Homo sapiens: one gene and its partner. The protein of the gene in region 1 interacts with the protein of each later gene in a pairwise test. Each region holds a gene or a part of one and is shown on either strand. Other genes may lie near its edges. The genes, in order: PAQR6 and RNF144A.

Evidence for each region.
Region 2: the proteins of PAQR6 (region 1) and RNF144A interact in binary tests that used the Homo sapiens proteins (3 or more experiments, as listed by UniProt).

What each region holds. Positions count from the first base shown.
Region 1 is NC_000001.11:156,245,057-156,252,939, forward strand, and holds the start of PAQR6 (membrane progestin receptor delta), read right to left. Parts: upstream 3,001-7,883; 5' UTR 2,901-3,000; exon of another isoform or gene 2,859-2,900; intron 2,577-2,858; exon of another isoform or gene 2,454-2,576; intron 1,701-2,453; 5' UTR 1,676-1,700; coding exon 1,625-1,675; intron 1,195-1,624; coding exon 1,067-1,194; exon of another isoform or gene 932-1,066; coding exon 726-931; intron 606-725; coding exon 479-605; intron 183-478; coding exon 86-182; intron 1-85. Other genes in the region: nonsense-mediated mRNA decay factor SMG5, read right to left, coding at 5,531-5,614, 5,802-5,940, 6,347-6,421, 7,358-7,448, 7,863-7,883. UniProt on the Homo sapiens protein: Plasma membrane progesterone (P4) receptor coupled to G proteins. Seems to act through a G(s) mediated pathway. Involved in neurosteroid inhibition of apoptosis. May be involved in regulating rapid P4 signaling in the nervous system.
Region 2 is NC_000002.12:7,018,111-7,025,622, forward strand, and holds part of RNF144A (E3 ubiquitin-protein ligase RNF144A), read left to right. Parts: intron 1-2,362; coding exon 2,363-2,570; intron 2,571-6,258; coding exon 6,259-6,406; intron 6,407-7,512. UniProt on the Homo sapiens protein: E3 ubiquitin-protein ligase which accepts ubiquitin from E2 ubiquitin-conjugating enzymes UBE2L3 and UBE2L6 in the form of a thioester and then directly transfers the ubiquitin to targeted substrates.

The DNA of each region.
Region 1 (7,883 bases):
ACTGAGGGGGCAGGGCTGGAAGTGGGCACCTTGAGGGTCAGGACAGGAAAGCAGGAGTCTGGGCAGGGGCCCTAGGCCTCCTTACCCGATAAAAGAGTGGGAGGTTGTCGAACAGGAATGGATAGGCGAAGGCTCCTGTGCGGAGGACCTTACTGAGCCCAGGGCTTTCCAGCTCCAGGAAACTGGGAGGCGGGAGGAAAAGGCCGGTCACCATCGCTGTGCTTGGGGTAGGGGTCAGAGAAAGGCAAGAGGACTTGGGCAAAGATGGAATATCAGCACAGCCTGCAGCTAAGAAAACCGTTAGGGCATATGACCTCCTGTGTAAAGGACCACATCTGTATGTGGGGATAAAGGGTCTGACAGAGGAAGTCCTCAGTACATGGTCCCGATGCCTCCAGTGCTGTTCGAGAGCAGTGAGGTGTGTCCTCTCCTGTGCCTCCGCCTTCCCCGTCCCCACTGGAGGGGCCTGGGAACCCACCGGGAGTAGCAGGAGAGGCCGGTGCACAGGAAGGAGTTGAGTGCGGCGGCAGGCACAAAGAACTGGTGCAGGTGGCCGTGCAGCCAGGAGGCCGGCATGGAGTAGGCGGCATAGGGGAAGGCGCAGCCTGCGGTGAGGTGGGGGCGTGCAGCTGAGGCCTGAGGGGCGCGCCCCTATGTCCCGCGTCCCACCCCTCGCCCCGCTCCGGGACGCCCAGACCCCGCGCTCCCGCGCCTGTCCGGCTCACCCAGACTGTAGAGGCTGAGCGCGCCGTAGTCGAGGAAGTAGCAGATGTGGCGCATGCGGGGCGACATGGAGCTGAAGGTGTGCGCGCAGCACGACGCGAAGGGGTAGAGGCAGGCGGGCAGCAGGAAGACCAGCAGCGGCCAGTGGTACGGCTCCGCACGGAAGCCGGGGCCGCCCGCCAGCGCCAGGAGCCGCCACAGGAAGTACCTGCGGCGGGCGCGTGCTCAGGCCGCCGCGGACCCCCGCGACTGCCGCTGCAGCCCGTGGGCCTGGACGGTCCCTGCCCGCCTGGGTACCCCCTCTGAGCTCAAGGCCGCGGCCTGGGGCGGAGCCTCCCCTCACCAGGTGGGCAGGAAGTGAGTCCAGATGTTGACCGTCTCGTTGGTCATCTGGAAGGAGCTGAGGACACAGTCCAAAGCCGAGCTGGTGGGGCGGCGGTAGCCAGACATGATGCCATCTTCCCAGAACACCTAGGGTAGTGGTGGGAGAGGAAGGGCGTCACTGTGCCCGGACCCTTTCCCTCCATCTGAGATCTCTGGAAGCAGGGTCAAAGAGGCTGGGCTGGAGATCAACGTGGCCCCCAAGCCAAACTAAATCTGATCTGATGTTACCACAGGTCCCAGTACCCACAACCCACAAAACAAATAGGAAACCGAAGAGCCAGATTGGGGTGGGATGGGGGTGGAGCGCAGCACACAGGGCGCTCTGGGGAAGGGGACTCCAGATGGAGGGCCACAAGCTTGTTCCTCAGAGAACAGAGGAAGAGTCTCACACTGGAATGGGAGGGTAAGAGTTCGCCTGCAGGAGGGGCTGCCCCAATAGCTAAAAGAGAAGAACGTCAGCCCCTAGTCAGTCCTCTAGGGAATGGGGGTTGGTGGGTCAGTGGGTGGAGCCCCTCACCCGGGGGACCTGGTGGACTTGAAGAAGTTGGGGCAGCTTGAGACTGAGCATGGTGGCCTGGTACCTCCACGTTGACCTAGAGACAGAGTGGGAGGTAGGGGATCAGATAACTGCCCCCATCCACAGGCCCCTTTCACCTGGGTTCAGCCGCAGGATGGGCTGTGCGTGTGGGAGGCAGATGGCACCCTCCCTCCTGGAGCTGCTTCCTTCAGGCCTGGGGAAGCTGGTCCACCTTCCCCAGCCCTTGCACCACTTAACTCCAACCCCTGTTCTCCTTGGGGCATTCAGTCCCCACACTGAGGGGCTTGGCGGCCTCAGCCCAGCAAAGAGTGGCGGGGTCCTCCCAGCCGGGAGGCTGCCTCAAATAGTGATCCAGCCCCGCAGGCCCCAGTTTTTGTCTCAGGAAGAATCCTGACTCCTGGAGGCCAGCACAGAGACAGCCTGAGTACCACTCCCTTTCCCACCAGAATGTGCTTCGCCCACAGCGCCTGAACTGAGCACAGAACACTCTTGGCACTCCGAATCTCTGGAGAAGCCAGATGCCATCAGGTGGGACAAGGAGGTAGGGGGATGCCTGGCTTTTCTCTGAGGACTACACTTGTGCCCCCAGGAGAATTTTGGGGTCCCTGCCCCTCCTGAGCCCAGGTATCCCTCAGCCCCAGACCTGTGCACTGCCTCCGGGTGGCCGCAGCTCTGCTGCCCCGCCCGCCTCTCCCGGCACATTCCTTGGCACAAGTGGAGGGGCTGGGCCAGCTGGGCAGGCGGAGCCGCCCCAGGAGGAGGACTAGGACACTCCCCCCACCTCCCCAGGCCAAAACTTTGCAGCAACTCTATAACTTAGCCCCTCTTCTTGCCACCAGCTCTGCATCCATGTTTTTGCCGCATGCACTTTGGGGCTTGCACCAGCAGTCACTCCCCCAGCCTCTGCCCGAGATGGGTGCTGGAGACCCTGCTGGGCAAAGGCAAACCTGGCCCTAGTCCCTGCACCCCAGCAGAACAAAGATGGATGAGGGCCTCCCAGGGTATCCCTTGCTCGCTCCCACAAGTGGGATGGTCGGGGGTCTCCCCTACCCTGAGTGCTGCCCATCTATCTGGGGGAGGAGTGAGGAATACGCTGGGGTCTAGCTGCCCTCACGGTGCCTTCCCTTAGTAGTAGGGTTTGGAGATCTCTGGAGTGGAGTGTGTGCAGTTGCTATGGAAATGGGGGAGGGGTGGCTGGAGCAAGATGCTTTACCTCTATTTTCCCAGAAGAGCCCCAGAAGGTGAGCTTCCTTACCCAGAGCTTGGTGGGTGCTCCTAAGCTGGTGGGTCAACAGGCCCAGGGCTCCACGGGCGGAGTCCAAGGCTGCTGCCAGCCAGGCTGATGGAGGAAGAGTGGCCAGGCAGGCGGGCCAGGCCTGGGCGGGGAGTGGGGAGACAAAGGGGAGCCAGGGAACAATCCCAGCCTTGTCCAGCCTCCAGGGAGCAGCACGGGGTGGCCCAGCCCCATTAGCAGGCAGCTCACTCGGCCGCCTGCACACAGCCAGCTCCTCCAGCACGACCCAAACTCCCTGTGCTGACTGGCTAGAACAGGGTAGGGGCCCAAGGCAGGATGTGGCCATGGTGCTGTAGAGTCCCCCCGGCGACTCAGAGCAGTGTTCCCGTTCCAGGTTCTCCCAGCAGTTGGGGACAGCTCTGCCTTAGGCTGGCAGAGGAACCCAAATCCCCAAATGCAGAACAGATTTCAGAAGCCATCTCTCACCATGCTTTGCTGCCTCTTAGCACCTGGTGCTGCCTAGGGCTCAGAGCAAACTGCCTTTGGTAAATGTTGGTTCTATCATGGGGGATTCACCAGGCTCACCACCTCCCCCTCCCCCCCCCCCCCCCCCCGAATACAATTTGAGATGCCAATCCTTGCAGGACAGGCACTTGAGGACTCAGAGGCTGGTTTTTTTTTTTTTTTTTTTAAGGTGGAGTCTCGCTCTGTCACCCAAGCTGGAGTGCAGTGGCGCGATATTGGCTCACTGCAAGCTTCGCCTCCCGGGTTCACGCCATTCTCCTGCCTCAGCCTCCCGAGTAGCTGGGACTACAGGCACCCGCCACCATGCCCAGCTAATTTTTTTTTGTATTTTTAGTAGAGATGGGGTTTCACCGTGTTAGCCAGGATGGTCTCGATCTGACCTTGTGATCCACCCGCCTCAGCCTCCCAGTGCTGGGATTACAGGCGTGAGCCACTACGCCTGGCCAGAGGCTGGTTTCAAGGCTCACCTCCCCACCCCCTTGGGGAAGAGGACCCAGCTAGTGACAGCGAACCAACCCCAGGCAGCGATGTTGCTGGCAAGAGATTTTCACTATCACCCCTGCAAAGGCACCGCCTCAGTTTACAGTCAAGGAACTTGACAGTGCCTATCAAACCATCTCCAGGGCCTTCACTCAAATTGCCTGCTTCTTGTTCTGTTCCATCCACTTCAAAGAAGCCTTTCCAAAATGCATTTCAGGATGCCATCTTCAGTGCCCCACCCCCCAATGAAACTTCTGTACAGACAGGCACCAGGAGACAGGGATTGGGCTTGGGGGGTTTATTAAGTGATGCTTTAGTCTCAGTCTCTGCCAGCAACTGGGAGTGGGGTGACTCCACTCACCCCAGGATTTCCCAGACTTGCTATTTTAGAGGAGAGAGGCAGGAAGCCAACTATCCTCTAAGCCACAGCTTGGGAAGCTAGGCTAGTACTGGGGTGGGGGCAGCAGAGCTGAGACCCTCCACCCCGAGCCCCTAGCCTGTGCTATCCTCCCAGCCTGAGGGGGAGGAGCTGAGGCAATCCTGGCTGCAGCCTCCCACACACAGCCCTGCTCTTGGTGCGCCATTCACTGCCCTGAGCTATTCATGATCTCTGCTCCCAGATATTCACCTCAACACTCCAAAAGCCAGCCCCTTCAGGTCTTCAGTCCTGCGGAAGGCAAAAGGAGGGACGGGGGCCTCTGACTGAGCAGCTTCAAGGAGCCTCTCCTTTCTGCTGCCCACTGAATGCCGGCCCCTTGTCTTCAGCCCTCCCTTAGATAGGAAGGGGGGTGGTGGCCTCAGACTGCACCCCCTTTCTTCTCTTCCTGGCATCCCATTCTGTCCCAGCACAGCAGCCAAGAGCACAAAGCACAGCACCTGTGGGGCTGGTGGGCACAGGAGACCGTGCTGGCACAGGCCAGACTGCCTGCAGCCCTAGGTGGGGCCTGCTCCCTGCCCTGGAAGCTAGACAGAGGGAGACACAAAGCAGAAGTGGGGCAATGGGATGTGCAGCCCCTGCAGCAGGAGGAGGAGCACACGAACCCTGACCCTGCTACTCGGTGCAGGCCACTCCAGGCCTTGCTTCTCTAACAGCCCCTGTGGCTGGCTCCAGAGCTGCCTGGTCCCCATAAAGGGGGCTGAAAGGAGGATGGGTGATCCTTGAGGAGGGGAAGGGTCTGCAGAGAATCACTCAGACACCAGGTATTACCCAGCTCTTCCCCCAAGACCTAGAGGGTCCAAACTCCTGGCCCCAACCACCCTGCATCTTGGGTGAGGAAGAAGGGCCTCTTTTGCTGTTCCTTCCCCTCAGAGATCCAAGAACCCATTCCAGTGAAATGCAGGTACCCATGCCTACCACCTGCCCCTGGAGACAGCAGGGGAGCTGAGGCAGGAAGGCTGGCCAGGGGCCCACAAGACTCTCCTAATCCAAGCACTTTCCTCGCTTTCCTAACGTCTTGGCAACAAAGGGACCCCACCCTCCCAGCCGGCTCCTGGGCCCTCCCTGCAGCCTCTGAGCAGCTAGGCCTCCCTCCTGTGTGCGTGCATGAGTCTGCGTGTGGTGGGGTGACTACAGGTGCTGGTCCTGGCTGCCAGGGAGGGCAGGAGAGATCTGGAGTCAGCCCCACTGCAGGGCCTGGGGGTCAGTATCAACCAATTTCCTTCCACTGCTTGTAGAAGTCCAGAACATTCTTGATGTCCACACTGGCGTGGGCAGCGGCCTGCAGGGCTGCCTGTGGAATGGGAGAAGGAAAGATGGAGAGGGTCTGACCTCCTGAACTGAAGAGCAAATTGTTGAGGCGCTGGGGAAGGAGTGATGGAAGAGAAAAAAAGGTAGCTATGTGGAGGGTCTGGGGATGGAGTCTGCTCTGGTACCTCGTCCCTATTCCACACCATCCCCCCACCTCACCCATGACCCACCTGCATGGGGCCTGAAAGCACGCTGGGGTTGTCCAGTGGAAGGCCTGTGATGATGGTCACCATGCCACTCGGATCCTCCTCACCTGCCCCCTGGGCCAGAGTCAGCTGTTTGCAGCTGTCTAGGATCTTATAGAGAGTCCTGGGGATGGGGGGCAGAGGGGAAGATGGGCCAAGACCCAGCATTAGCACAGCCCAAACACCAGGATCTCCAGGGGACAGGGGCAGCTGGGGGCTGGGAGGGCAGTGAGCAGCAGTGGGCCCTGGAAGCTGGCCCTGGAGACATATGGGGAGCAGGCAAAGGTGCATTGAGGGAAAACACCAAGCCTGAGCATCGCAAGGCCCAAAGAGGCTGACCCATCTGCAGAGGAAAAGCTCAGGTGCTGCGGCAACTTCGTACTCCTCGCAAGGTGAGGCCTGCAGGAGGGCCCTGGCAGGCTACGTGTGGAGCCTCAGAATTATCCAGCCCTACCCGTTCTCCCTAGGAATGCTCGTGGAGGAGCAAGGCAGGTGGCCTGAGGTTCTAGGGGTGAGGGCTAAAATGTTACCAGGCATCTGCATCCTGCCTCTTCAGCTTATGCCGCTCAAAGCTCTTTCCCACCTCTTTCTGGCAGCGAATGTACCTGCAGAGGAGATGTGCGAGTGGAGGTCAGGAGCAGGAGACTGGCAGGGTGCCTTACACAAAGCAGTCTGTTGTGGCTCTGGGGGCCTGGTTTTGCAGGCGGGGCTGGGGAACATGTCTCTCCCACCACAGCTCTGGAGCCATTCTTAAGTGGCTTCCTGGCTGCTGGGCCCAGCTCACTTTTCCTCCTGATAACATCAATTATTTGGTTCCTCTCAGGGGAGGAGCTGGGAGGGGAGAAGCAGCAGATGCTTTTCAAGTCAGGGCTTCTGGAGACAAGGTCCGAACAATCAGACCTTGTGCAGCTTCCTGGCCAGCCAGAGCAGATGCAGAGGAGGGGGTGGGCCAGCTAGCAGGGAGAGGGAAGCTTTCTCCTTATTCCCTACACCCTCTGCCTAGTTCTCCTCCAGCCCCAAAGGCCAGAAGGGCAGGCCTGTACCGGCTGAGCATCTGCACATGCTGCCAGCTGCCCCTCCCTGGCTGGCTTCGGTCTTACCACTCCCTCAGCTCAGCAGGGAGGTGGGAAGCCCCTGGGCAGCCTGGATGAGGCCCTCACACTCTGAGAAACCTGATCACCTGTCCCAACCCCAAAGCAGGAGAAATTCCTATAAAGGAGTTCACAGTCTAAAGTTGGGGGAGGGAGGTCTGCTCCCTTCTCCCCAGTGGGTGCTGATCACAGGCTTGCCCCAGAGGAAGGACAGCAGCTCAGTGCTCCCCACAGGGCTCCTGATCCCTTTGGTCACCCTCTATTTCAGCAGCTACAACCTTGACTTCTAATTATCTCTGGTATCACTCCCCAGGCAGTGAGGTGAGCTAACTGTGAGTAGAGACGGGTATGTATGTGTCTTACCCATAGGGAGCAAGGGGCTTTCATAAGCATGTGTTATCCAAAAGACAGACCCAGGGCTCAGCACAGGTCCAGCCAGGCCACACTCACCTGTTTCCTTTTTTAAACTCTGCCTCCAGGTACCGAATCCCATCCCGGGCCCCTGGGTGTTCCTTCTTCAGCAAATCCAGGCCATCGATCACTGGTGGGCAAGGTAGGGAAAGACAAAACAGATAAGCTCAGACTGCTGTGACAAGGGGCTCTGGAGGAAGTATCTGAGCTCACCTCAGTACACTCTTCAGGCAGAGAAGGGACCCTGGCTCCCTAGAGGGCTCCCAAAGTTCTCTGAAAACATGACCTTCTGCCAGCAATATACTTGGCAATTTACCAAGTGCTTTCTCATTATATTCACTTACATTTTCTGTTTCTCCCAACTGTCTTGTAAGGCAGAATAGGGATTATGTCCATTTCACAGATGAAGTGACGGGTTCACAAAGGTAGTAAGACTTGACCAAGGTTACTGCATATAAACTGGGCCCCAAATAAGGTCTCTTAATCCCAAGCCCAGAATCTCTTTTAGTCATACTCTGTCTCCTTACCTCTCCAATGTACTTACCTGTCCTTGGGATGATGACAA
Region 2 (7,512 bases), on another chromosome or scaffold:
CGAGACCCAGCTTTGGGATGTCTGCTCCTTGCTGATGTCAGAAGCTCCTACTGCACAGGAGAGGTGGGGACAGCAGTGAGACGGAAGGGTCCCTAGCAGGCAGCGCTGCCCTTCTGGATCTAGCCTCAGAGCTATATCGGGAGGAGAGCAAAGAGCGGGTGAGGATTTCTCTTCCCGCGCAGCGTGTTGTTTAGTGCACACAGCACTTGCACCCTCCCGCAGGGCTGGGCAGACATGGGCCTCCTATCTCATCAGGGACAAAGCTGGGCTCACCCCACAGCACTCACAGAGGGCAGGCAGAGAGTTGTCGGAGGCATCGCGGGGACGGGATGGGAGCATGACCCAGGCCAGCTGCCTTTAGCCTTTGGCGTTTCCTCCTCACTGCTCAGCGTGGCGCTCAGTGCCCCAGGCTGGCATGTGCACCCCCTCCTTGCTTTGCTGTGACTGTCAGCTCAGGGGAGCCCCAGGCATCTGCCCCCACACATGTGACCCACAGACAACAACTGCGTTTTCTCAAAAAGCCATTTTGTCAGACCTGACAGCTAGGAACATTCTTAGAAAAGCAAATGTGGAAACTATCAACAAATAAGAGAAGAGCTAATTTTGTCCATTCATTCAGTATGAGGAGCATCCTGGGGATTTTAGATTATTATAATGAAGATAATTAGAGTAGAGCACCTGTTCCTGACCTCCAGCGTTCCTTGTTATTATCAAGTTCTTCTTAATCTTCTGCCACCCCTAACATTCTGACAGTTTTGTGCTGTTGATTAATTCATGCTTAAAAAAAAAAAGGCAGAGGGCAGCCAGATGAGATCAAGGGTCAGCCAGCCATGGCTAGTGGGCCAAATCCAGTCCCGCCGGTGGCCTGCTGCTGTCAAGTTTTGCTAGAACATTCATTTCCAGATCACTGTGTCTGCTTTTATGCAACAGCAAAGCCCAGTAGCTGCGACAGAAACCCAGAAACAACATGGTCCTCAGACTTAGATGATGACTATCCGACCCTCTGCAGAGGAAGTTTGCCAGCCCCTGGATTAGATGACTAGATCATTTCAAAGCTAGACCCTACACAAGATGGTTTCTGGAGAGCTGAATCTGGCTTCCCCATGTATTTGGGGAACATGGTAAACACACAGAGCCTTACACATACGTATGCGTGTGCACCGTCAGGACACCCAGTGGGTGATTTGTCATTAACTTCCTGCTGGTCCCGTGGCAATGCGTGTAGGTGAAGTCCCGGTCCACGTGCGGCGCCAGCATGTTGTGGATTCCAGTGAGTAGGAATCCCATGTGTGACACAGGCGAGCGGGAGCTGCCCGGCGGCCAGTCACAGGGCCCAGACATTTGCAAGGACTTGTCATCGCCTTTCAAGTCGTCTCTGAAACTCAGTTGTCCTGACTACTTCCCAAGAAGAGCCCCGCTGAAAACTTAGAAACCAGTGGCCTACCAGAACGCCTTTGGAAATAGCCCACATTGCACTGGCCTGGGAGAGCTTTCTGGCAGAGCCTTGCTGCTCCCTGGGGTGGCCACTGATCGAGAATTCGGCATCATGCTGGACAAGAGGGAAGATGAAATGAACAACCAGTCTTCCTACAAAGGGCAGCCAATAATTTAAAGAAATGCAATTTTTGGACAAGGATGTGAAGAAATAGATGTGTCAAAGTGTCTTGTTTTTAGAAATAAACTTTGTGGCTAATTCCATTAAATTGGGCTTCTTAGAAATGTGTGCTGTGATTTGGAGAGAAAATCTGGCCCTTGAAGGATTGGTTTCACTCCGTAGTTAACTCGTGGCTTGGATTTGAGAAGGGGAGGCCATCTTAGGCAGGTGAACCATTTGGTTAGAAGAACAATCCAGCCATCTTCCTTCCCTCTTCCTCTCGGTCTTCTAGCAGCATTTTCCTGGTGCTGGCTGTATGCCCAACATGGGGCCATCAGGGGTCCAGCTTCAGAAAACTGTCCCCTAGGGGAGGCAGATGAGCTAGCGCCATGTGCATTGCTCAGAGAAACCCGACAGGCAGGTGGGCCAAGCTTTCCAGGATGTGGAGGCCTTTGAGCTGTGAGCTGAGTGTCAGAGGCAAGCAGGGCTGACCCAGGGCTCCAAGGGCATTCCAGGGGCAGGAGCAGCATTCCTGAGGGATGTCTGGGTGTCTGGAGGTCTGTTGCATGAAGGGAGAAGTTGGGAAGAGCTACAGCGGAGGTGGAGGTGGAAGGGTGGCTTGGGCGGTGCTTCGGTTGGGGCTGGTGGTGCTGGCTGTATTACCTGGACATGTTCCTCCCTGTCCGTGCACTGAGGGGCTCCTTCCTCTGAAGCCCACATGACCCTCTGGCTTAAGTTTGATTTGTCCATTTTGTCTCACTGTACCAGAGGTGCTGTTTGATCCCTGTCGGACTTGGTGCCCGGCGTCCACCTGCCAAGCTGTGTGTCAGCTCCAGGACGTGGGGCTGCAGACCCCCCAGCCAGTGCAGTGCAAAGCCTGCCGTATGGAATTCTGCTCCACCTGCAAAGCCAGCTGGCACCCTGGCCAGGGCTGCCCGGAGACCATGCCGATCACCTTCCTCCCCGGGGAGACCAGGTACCCTTTGTACACAAGCTGCCACCAAAGGCATGGCTGTGGGCCAGGAGAAGCAGGCATGCTTTCTTCCTAAAAGTGCTGTTACAGTGTAAGTGGCTGTGGCTCAGTCAACCCTAACACACACTGTACCTCTTGAGCCTCACTCAAGCCTGTCATTATTTGTATGTCTATTTATTTTTGAGAACTGACTATGTACCAGGCACTGTGTGAGGCCCTGGAAATAGAAAGGTGTGTGAGAACCACACTTAACACGGCTTGGCTGGAATGACAAATGCATGCGTGGTTTGTTACTTTTAAAGGTTGCAAGTCCTGCAGTACCTGAAGTTTCTGCAAGACTTCACTGTGTTGAAGGTGATCTGAAATGGGGGTACAGAAACAAGAACAGGAGTAGGGTGCACTGGTCATAAATACTGTCTGGAGGGGGATGGGGAGACACTCCCTGGTGGCGGCCTCCCCTGCAGCCATAGTCGGGCTGTTTGCCCAGGAGAATGCTGCCGCACCACGCTCTGTACTTTGACATTTCGTAGGTTGATGCATAGGAAATTCATCATATCCAGGTCTTTTTCTCCTACAAAATCTACAAGGTCACGTGGTTCTGCTGGACACTTGCCCCTGCTCCTGTTGAGTCCAGGATCCTCATAGAGGAGCTGCCACTCTACCCACCACCCTCCCCAGGGTGTGCTCACCAGCTGCTCCCTGTGCGCCCCTTTTCCCATTCCACCGTCCCCAGCTCCTGTTCCTTTCCGTGTGACCCCTGTGCCCTGTTCTAGCCCCCGACCCTCTCAGGGTCCCTGCCACACACCCCTGGTCTCCTTCCGGGCGAACCTCTCTTCCCGTGTCTGGAGTGCCCTGCTCTGCCCTCCTCCTTTCCCTGGGGGCTCCTGCCACACTTCAGGTGGGGATCACATCCCTTTGTCAAGCTTCATGGTTCCGAGGACAGGGTTGGGGCCTCCACCCTCTGTGTTCCCCCTGAGATTCTCTGCATTGATTACAACCCTGGACATATTGGATTTGAGTTCTTGCGTTGACAAGGCCGATTCTGCCATCAGGATGAGCTCCTGACACACAGGGCCTGGGCCTTTCTGAGCAGCCTGCATCAGGCAGGCAGCTGCAAGCACGAACCACTTGTACTTATACTTCACGTGTACTTGGCATCTTAGGGGCTTCAAAACTTTAGATGGAGGCTGGTGAGTGTTTGGAGCCTGATGACTTAGTTTTCTTTATCTGTGACATTCTAGTCTCATTTAAATTATTGTCCAAAGATGATCTAAATCAAAATTCAGAAATCTCATTTTGTGGAAATTTTTAAATCAGAAGATGTCACATAAAAACTGGAATTTCTGGCTTCTCTGGGAAATCCGAATCCTAAGCCTCTCCGAGGCTGCCTCCCCATGCTGGCAGCCAGCGTAGCAGAGCCCCAGCTCTTGCTGGAGGCGCCTCCTGGGCCAAAGCCCCACAGTCCTCACTACTCCTTGTCCCCTGGAACTGAGGCTGCCTGTCAGCTGCCATTTATAACTGAGAAGACACTAAGCTATTTTTTGTATTGGAGGGTTTGTTGTTGTTGTTGTTTTTGGTTAAATCTTCTCCTCAACCATGTTTTTATCCAGCCCCTGACCACTTCACTCATTAGCATCACCTGCGCACCTCTTCAAGCTGCTGGGCCACGTGTAGATTGTGATTAAACTGTCCAAACTCCTCTCTGCTTTTATAATTTGAGTTTACAGTAAATGTTGTTAGTAATAATTTTAAATCCAATTCAGATACTAAGAAATATTTGAAAACCATTGTCTATTCCATGCAAAATTTTATGCATAGCACAGTACACCAGAACTTTCATATTTTAACGGTTTTCATTTTGAAATGTCTCCCCAGGAGACACTGTACACGCTGTTCCTGCCGTTTCTTCCAAAATCAGCTTGTGAGTCACATGAGAAAATTGGTTTCTTAGCTTTAAGGTCACACCTGGCTTTCAAACCAAAACAATGTTATCTAACCTAAAACCCAACCTTGATCACCAGATCCGGTGTCTCATGACTTCCAGCTTTTTGCAAAATCAAAGTCATTCTCAGAAGGAGGCCAGGCCTAAGGTTTACTCGGAGCTGGCTCTGTGCTGGATCCCTCTGGAGACATTTGCACATATGCTATCTCGTTTGCTCCTTGCAACAACCTTAGTTCATTCTTTATCACATTCTGCATGACCAGGTTGGTCTGCAGTTTGCTTTTAAATTGGAAGCATTTGAGCTAGTGACAGTTGTGTTATCTTTCAGTAACAGTTGTTAATAATAACTACTGTTTATTGAGTGCCTGGTACTTATGTGCTGGATTTTGTGCTTAACATGTTAACATGTGCAACCTCTGTAATCCTCACAACCGTCTGTAGAGATCGATGCTATTAGCCTTATTCATCTGGTTTGCAGATGAGACACGTAACACATAAATCGCACAGCTAGGATCTGTCTGTCTCAAGACTCTGTGCTCCTAATTAGGAGGACATACTGCTTCTCTCATTATTTCTTACTCTGTTGCCTTCTACTAATGGACCAAACAGTCACGTTCAGTTGGAATGTGCACCCCAAGTGGAGGATTGTTCACTGCCAATCATCAGACAGCTCCTACTAAAGTGAAACTACATTTAATGCTCATATTGACTGGAAGCTTGTGAGAGATCCTTCAGCCAGAATGCACTCAAAAAGCCAGAATTTGCTCAACTGCCGTGAATATATACCCATACATGTGTTAAATTCTGAAAAAGCTGCCCCGAGAAGGAGGGATGCATTTTCTCCTGCTGATGTTTGTTTGATATAGTGAGTTCCAACAATATAGCAAATGGACCCCCATAATCAGTGATAACTCCTCTTAACAGTTTATCATTTATTCCTTCAGATGCTTTTCTGAATATTCTTACCCATCTTTTAAAAATTAACAGCATGGGGTGAGTCATACCTAATGTCTGTGTTATCTTTCTTTAGCAACATTGAACTACTGCTACCCTTTATCAAGCACTTCATAAAAGCTGCACCCTGCGCTGTGCTCTTGGCACACGGAATCTTTTCTCATGGTCACACTGATGAGAAAACTAGGGCTTGGAGGGTTGCTCCACAGCTGGTTTGTAGCAGACCCAGCTCTGACCTCAGCTTAAAGCCCTTCTTGCTAACCCTGCAGACCTAGCCAACTTCTGAGGAAAACAATTCTGTAAGAAGAGCCAGGTGGATCTATCTCAAGTAAACAGTGTGTGTTTGTGTGTGTGTATTTGCAACATTTATTTATTTTTCTTATAACAGCAAAGTACATAAAATTTATATCAACCCTTTGGAAAGTAGACAGCTCTGTGAATAAGGATACAATATTTGACCTTAACACTATGATTCAGATACCTCCGTTATAATAAGCCTTTCGCTGTATTTTCTTTTGTTTGTATACATATATCTCTAAATTTAGATATGTGTTGATGTTGCTGTAATTTTTTAAAAATTTTTCCTAACTCAAAGTGGCTGATTCACAGTGTTCTGGTTAATTTTTTTTTTCTGGAGTTTCTGTTTCTTTGTTTTTTGGTTTTTGTTTTGTTTTTTCATTTAATACCAAGAAAACTCAGTCTGTGAAGTGGAGCCGATGCTTCCAGCATAGCCAGTGCTCCTGGGTCTCCCGTGGGATCCGTTTGTGCAGAGTCCTCACGGCGTTTCTCCCACAGTGCTGCTTTCAAAATGGAAGAAGATGACGCGCCCATCAAGCGCTGCCCCAAGTGCAAAGTCTACATCGAGCGAGACGAAGGCTGCGCGCAGATGATGTGCAAGAACTGCAAGCACGCCTTCTGCTGGTACTGCCTGGAGTCTCTGGACGTGAGTACGGCCTTCAGCTTCACCTTGCGGCATTTAGCTTTGAGGTTTAGATTTGGAATGAGAAAAATAGACCAGCTGTTTCCTAAAGAGCTTGGTGCCTACTCCTGTGTAACAGTGAAGCAACACCGTTTGGTGTTTCTCCTGGGTTTGTGAAAACATTAACTCATGAGCGCCATGGGGACAGAAGCCTTTGTGACTCGTATAGTCCTGGGGTCTAAACACTTCATGCAGGTTCAGGATCCAGCCTGGGATTTAAAGGGGTTTTAGCATCTTAGGTTTTGTCTAAGCGGGGACTGTCATTGTCAGTTTGGGCTGCTGTGACATAATATCATAGATGAGGCAGGTTAAATGACAGACATTTATTCCTCATGGTTCTGGGGGCTGGAAATCCAAAATCAGGGTACACCAGATTTGGCTCCGGGGTTCCTGATCAGGACTCCTTCCTGGTGTTCAGGATAGTGAGGACAGACAGAAGTGGGGGCTGGGGGGCTGTTGGGCTTGGGGCCAGTCTTAAGACTTCATTGACACTCACATCATCTACAGGGCGGGAAAACGTGCAAGCCCTTTGCTCTCTGGCAGAATGGAAGTTCTGGTCTCATACGGCAGCCTTCTCCTAAGTATGCTCTGCTTCAGTGTTTCTCAAACACACCCTACCGTGTGTGCCTGCAAGAGCCATGTCCCTGACGGGAGGGCACAATCTCCCAGGCCCACACGTCTCTGGAGCTTTGAGGCCTGATGCACAGGTTGCTGCTATTTAGCTTCTCATTCTCCTTCCTTGCCCATATTAGGGCGTGGGCATCTTGCCAAAATGATGAAGCTATGATTTTAGTTTTAGAATAATTTATTGATGCATACTTTTTTAAGAACTATAATTAGGCCAGCCTCGGTGGCTCACGCCTATATTCCCAGCACTTTGGGAGGCCGAGGTGGTCAGATTACCTGCGGTCAGGAGTTCAAGACCAGCCTGGGCAACATGGTGAAACCCTGTCTCTACTAAAAATACAAATTATCCAGTCATGGTGGCATGCACCTGTAGTCCCAGCTACATGGGAGACTGAGGCACAAGAATTGCTTGAACCTGGGAGGCGCAGGTTGCAGTGAGCTGA